Regions from separate parts of the Homo sapiens genome. Here region 2 is linked to region 1. Evidence: fine-mapped QTL for protein levels in blood plasma. Region 1 holds a variant in brackets. A gene starts in the other region. All regions are shown on their forward strands.

Region 1 (2,931 bases):
TTGGGAGGAAATCAGAGAATAAGCTCTCCATTTAGAGATTTTGCTGTTTGCTGCCCTTGTACGACAGCAGGTAAAGTAAGTGCCTCCAAATAGCCAGCTGCCAGGATAGCCTGAGAAAGGGGTGGGAAACAGGGGCTGGAGAGAACAGAAGACTTGGGGCCTTTTACAGCAAGTGCAAACTTTCACACCTGTCGCTATAAATCAAGAGGTTTATGGGGCGGCAATATTTACACTGTAATTAAAAAATCATAAAGCAAGCACCCTTTCAGGTTGTGGAAAACAAAACTCTCAAGTTCTACAGCAGCGGCTGTTAATCAGTTACTCCTAACGATCTGCTGCCCAGATTGGGTGCTTACTCGGCCACAAACAGCAAACAGGACAATGGGAGAAAGTGGGATTTGCACACGATAACGGCTTTCAGAGGTGGCTAGGACTTGGCCAGAAACCTTTCAGTTTACTGCATAGTCTCTATTGGAGCTTGGGAAAATATTTTCTGTGAACCTAGTTGGCAGCTTAGGTTTCCTTCTCCCCTGTTCCCATGTGGAACTGAAGTCCATTTACTAAGGTGAGTATGGTGGCAGTATTAGGCACTGTGGGTAGGGTTAGTGGCAGACACAGAATTTAACATGGGGGAATAACTTACCTATGGAAGTGGCAGACCCACCACATGCACCTGGAATTGCAGACCTGAAAACTGGGCAAGCTGAAGTTCACCTCAGTCTTTTTGGTGTCTCCTGCCCTTCTGGTAGGTCTTCTTTCCATCCAGAGGCCAGGCCCGCCAGTTGCTGTTGGGCACACAGAACAGTCCAGGCCAGTCCTTCAGGCTCCTGCCTGTTTCTGCACCCTTTACCGCCCTCTCATTCCCCTCCACCTCATTTCAACCTCAGGGGCCTTCTTTCAGCTCCTGGAAGGAATGGTGCTGTCTCACCATCAGGGCCTCATATGCTTTCTGCCCAGTATTCCCCTGCAGCGTTCCTTCTCATTTTTCAGATCACTGCCTTAGAATGGTCTGCTCTAAATTGGAGAAGCCATCCCTGTTTTTTATCCTTTCTAAATTTGTTTTTCATTGATACATAATATTTGTACAATTCATGGGGTACATGTGATATTTTGTTACACGCATAGAATGTGTGATGATCAAGTCAGGATATTTACGATATCCATTACCTCGAGTGTTTATCGTTTCTATGTGTTGGGATAATTTCAAGTCCTGTCATTGTCTTCCACAGCACTTTCCACAATCAGTGATGAGATACTCATGCTTTCACTTTCTTCTTTTTCCTCACCGTGTTGCTCAACCATGGCATGGCTCTTTCACACACCCCTGAATATACAAGGCCTTGCACAGTGTCTGGCATATAGAAGCTTAATTTACACTTGTTGAATGAATGAATGAATGAATACCAATCAATTGTGCTTCCCAATTTGGCTTTCCAAGTTTGACAACTGGGATGAAATATCCAGAAAGAATTTGTCCTTATTTTCTTTCTCTGTCACTACCTAATGTGGTTTATACAATATATAATTTTGTTTCCTTCCTTCTCTAACCCTCAAAGTGGAAATTCCCACTATTGTGGGAATTTCAACAGCTGTACGTATGAGGAGGAAGGTCACATTTTGGCAGGCATTAATTTACACCACACGGCAAATACTGTCGGACATGGTGGAAGAATTCCTGGCCTTGCTTCCAGTAGACCTGATTTTGAATATTGCCTTATATACACATTAGAGTAAATCA[T/C]TGCACCTCTATGAACTTCACTTTCCTTATCATTGCAATAAATACAAAATGAGCTATCATTTAAGGAAATCTTTTGCAAATGATCAAGAAGACATAATTATTTCATCATTTTTATTCCACTGATCATAAGGTTCTCCTGCATTAGGCGGTGGTCTGGGGTTCCCTGTATACAATCTGGGGTCATGAAATTCACCTCCTTTCCTACCCTCCTTTGCCACCTGGAGTAATCTTCTCAACTTGTGCCCTCTGTGAGGACTCTCCCCTGTTTTCATCCACTGGCACTGTGCTTTTCCTTTGGCCCTGGCCATGTGATTACTTGTAGGAGGATGCTTCCAAGGCCTCTGAGAGTATCAGTAAAAGTGCTAACCCTGTCACCCTCCACTGTTCTTGTTTCTTGGGTTGTATTCATTTTATTAGCAAAATACACAGGCCTAGTGAAATGTAATAGACTTCTACCTCCAAAGATAATTAGAAGCCCATTTATTTGCCAATTCAATGAAAAGGCAACCACAAAAGGAAACCAGCTTTTATCAGCACATGCTCACAGCTCAGATCCCTGTGGTGTTGTGCTGCTCTGGCACTTGTGAAAAAAATAAATCCTGGGAAAACTAGGTTGCATTACGCTTCCTGTTAAACACAGAAAAGAAACAGCTGATGTCTGAATTTGCTAATTTCTGCTGATTCAGTTAGAGGGCAATGCACTCAGCTAACGAGGGATCTATCCAGGTATGTGAATTAAGGCTTGAAAAGAAAGTGTAGGTTGTAATCAGTGCATCCAGCACTGAGTTGGAATCATTATTTAGTGAGCATTTTCCAAAGAAATTAGAAAAGATTTCCAAGCTTAACAGAGCTTTCTGGATTCTTCCTTCTCATGGACATAATATAACAAAAATACAATCCCCTGCCCCTCCTTCAATCCTGGGATTTTAAGCAATGCTCAAGTGACCTTGTTTTCATGTTCTGTGGAAATAAGGTAGATACTGTTATCTCACCTGTATTAATACAGAACTCTGTATAACAAAGAAGTTGTAATTTATCAAAGGTCACACAGTGAGTCATTGCTGTAATCACAAAGCAAATGTTCAGGTTCTCATCTCCTTGGCAGCAAATGTTTTGTTCTCTAGGTTAGACTATCTTCTCTAAACTCTCATCATATGCCACTGCCTTCCCCTGCTGGTCTATCTCCAAGAAAG
Region 2 (2,931 bases), not on the chromosome of region 1:
ACTACCTGGGTGATGAGATCATTTATACCCCAAACCTTAGTGTCAGGCCATATACCCATGTAGCAAACCTGCACATGTACATTAATCTGTAATAAAACTTGAAATTATAAAAGAAAAAATATAAATAAAATGAAATATAATATCAAAGAATTGACAGAAATACTAACAAATGTAAGAGTAGCAGCAATTAAAAACCATAAACAATTCACAAGACTAATAATACCCTATTAAAGTGCTCTCCACTAAAATTGCAGGAAATTCAACCATTTGATTATATCTCAAGCAGAATTAGTTTTGCAATATTACCACATATTTGGTAGAATGTTGACTCCAAGGCCTCATAAATTTTAGTAACAATAATTTTACCTTATAAATAATACATGTTAGTAATCCTTAAAAACTTATCCATCAGTAAGTTACTAGGAAGTAACCCTTAATTAGGGGTAAAGATGAAAGCCTTTAGAATAGTCTGTTGTCAGCCTTAAGTAGAGACTTACATTTCTAGAGTGTTTTGCAGATCATTAAGGGTACCATAAATGGTAGGAGTCCCTAAGAACAACTATATTTATATATAAAGATTACTAATAGTCAAATATTGTTCCAAATTAAACTATGGAGTCATTATTTATCCTTCAATGTATTTTGTTAAACTGTATTTGTTTAGATATATATTTGCAAAAGACAAAAGCCTCAAAAAACAATCCAAAGCAATTGTTAGAAAATGTGTTGGTAAACTTTAGATATAGACCTATATGCTATTAATATCAAGCAAATGTTTCATTAGGGATTAATTTAGCATATGAGCTTATAAATGAGAGTGCAACAATAGTTAAAAACCAGTGAGTAAGAGAAGTTTTACATGCAAAATAAATGTCTGTGTATCATTATCTTCTAATATATTCAATTTCTCAGAAGACTTCTGACCAAAATATGTGTTTGTAGATACGTAGTCAAAATGTTATTAGTACCTTTAAGTTATCAACTGGAAATACATTAGATATAGCTTTATGTATTTGGTTTATATTGGAATAATGAACAGTATTATTAAAAATGTAATTTTTTTCTTTGTGGTAGAATCTCAGTATTAGAGTTTCCTTCTCATTATTATTAATAATCTTAATAATTAAATTTATATTATTTGAGCATCCACATCCATTTTTTCTAGAAAATTTCTAAGCACTTAATAAATTATAACCTCAGACAAATATTGGTTTTAAAAACTCACTTACCTCATCAGGTTTTGGATCATATCTTATCAGAAAGCACAAAGTAATGCTGAACTAAACAACCTGATGAATAGTCCTATAAGAACTGGATCTTCTGATTTGTGGTGAAATCATTTAAGGAGAATAAAAGCGATATGTTAATTAAATAAATTCAAATGATTTTTACACCAAAGTAAATTGAAATGCCATTCCATACTCTACTAAACATTCATAGGCAATGTTATTGCATACATACTTATTCAAAAGCTATTTATTTCTAAGGTACTTACCCCAAACTGACTTCTGATTATTCACTGGAATGTTACAACTAAAATACGCTTGCTGGAAAACTCTTGTACATAAACACCTGAGCGATCAAGGCCAACTCCATTTATCTTGACCATTGCTTGATTAATTCCTCTAGAACAAAAGCAGGTGTTCACTACATTTGTATTAAGAACTAACACAATCGGGTTAATGATCAACTGATGAAATGTGCAAGAATTGAGAAAAAAACAATTATAGAATTTTTTAAAAGTATTAAATTTATATTATTATTTTATCCATTATTTTGCTTCTTTTAAAAGTTGCACAGAATTTGAAAGGATGCGCTACTGGTTGTAAATTTGCTAGTAATTAGTTCTTTTTGTTTCTCACAGGACTCCTACATCAGATTACCAATGCACTTTGTCATAAATATTTCAGAATGCCTATGAGAAAAAGAATAAAGCTAAATCAAGTCCAGAATACAGAGACAAATCACTGCTGCATTGACAGAGTTCTCAACATTCATCAAATTATACAATAGTCAGAGGAGTTTCCTGTGGATATAAGGTCCATTTGAATCCTTAAGAAAAAGAGTGGATATTGAAGAAATATGTTCTTTATTCTGAGCAGAAAGGCCAGCAAAAAAGATAATGGATTTGCCAAAATATATCAGGACAATACTATTAGCCATAGGTAATTGGATGATAAAAATTGCTGTTACCTTTATGTGCTTTTGAAACTCTACATGATTTTCTTTGCAAAAAGGTCATTAATAAAAAATTGCATAATTTAATGGGTTTCATCTCATTTTTGTAGTTCAAATCAATCACCTCAATGGCAATCAGATATTAAGCACATTGTATTATTTATCTATAGCCTTTGAGAAGAGAAAAAAAATTTAGTTCACTTTTAATTAAATATCTGTTGATCCCCAAATTTAATACTATTTCTGATAAACTCATGTAAAAGAAATAAAGTGAATATAGATAGCTTTAAATGGAATTCATTTTTAAAAACTTGTCAGAGGACCCTGTTAACATCTTTCCATGTCCTAACATGGCTATAACTTAAAAATAGGCCTGAGAATAGATCATTATAGGCCATAATCTACTAATTAACTAAAATTTTTTGATTTCCCATATAGGCATCTCCAAATGTTTTCTAGATCTTGAGTTTTATTCTAATATTACCTACTCTATCATAAGCACACTCTAGTGTAGCTTTAACTTAACACAGAGATAATTTTCCAAAAAGAGTTGTGCAATACAAGAATACTATCATTCTACTTGCTTCACACTGCAATACATAAATATTAAGTCTGAATGTCAAGACTATCATTCAATCAATGCTTTTCTACCCATTTACTGACACCAGCAAACATATATCACCAGTACCCTTGGCTACCACATCATTATGTCTGTACACTGCTCAGATCACAATGTGATTTATCCAGAAATAG

Alleles and levels. Positions count from the first base shown, and alleles are read on the strand shown. Strength reflects both the effect of a copy and how common the allele is.
For the plasma level of the protein whose gene starts at base 1,535 in region 2, T is the high allele of the variant in region 1 and C is the other (moderate association).

Evidence for each region. PIP is the chance, under the fine-mapping model, that this variant and not a neighbour inherited with it causes the effect. The UK Biobank Pharma Proteomics Project read protein levels with antibody pairs (Olink). The fine-mapping took linkage between variants from a reference panel, not from the people measured, so its PIPs are less certain.
Region 2: SERPINI2 starts here. The variant in region 1 is fine-mapped to the plasma level of the SERPINI2 protein (UK Biobank, PIP above 0.99).

The regions. Positions count from the first base shown.
Region 1 is chr2:67,037,613-67,040,543 of GRCh38, forward strand. No RefSeq gene overlaps it. Among named protein-coding and RNA genes, the nearest start is that of LINC01828, 47 kb to the right of the region's middle. The variant T/C (reference allele first, on the strand shown) is at 1,739.
Region 2 is chr3:167,472,508-167,475,438 of GRCh38, forward strand. SERPINI2 (serpin family I member 2) reads right to left here and starts at 1,535. Exons shown (of 9, transcript NM_006217.6): 1 at 1,496-1,535. It overlaps LOC105374197 (a long non-coding RNA gene), which reads left to right. Exons shown (of 3, transcript XR_924683.3): 3 at 1,865-1,953.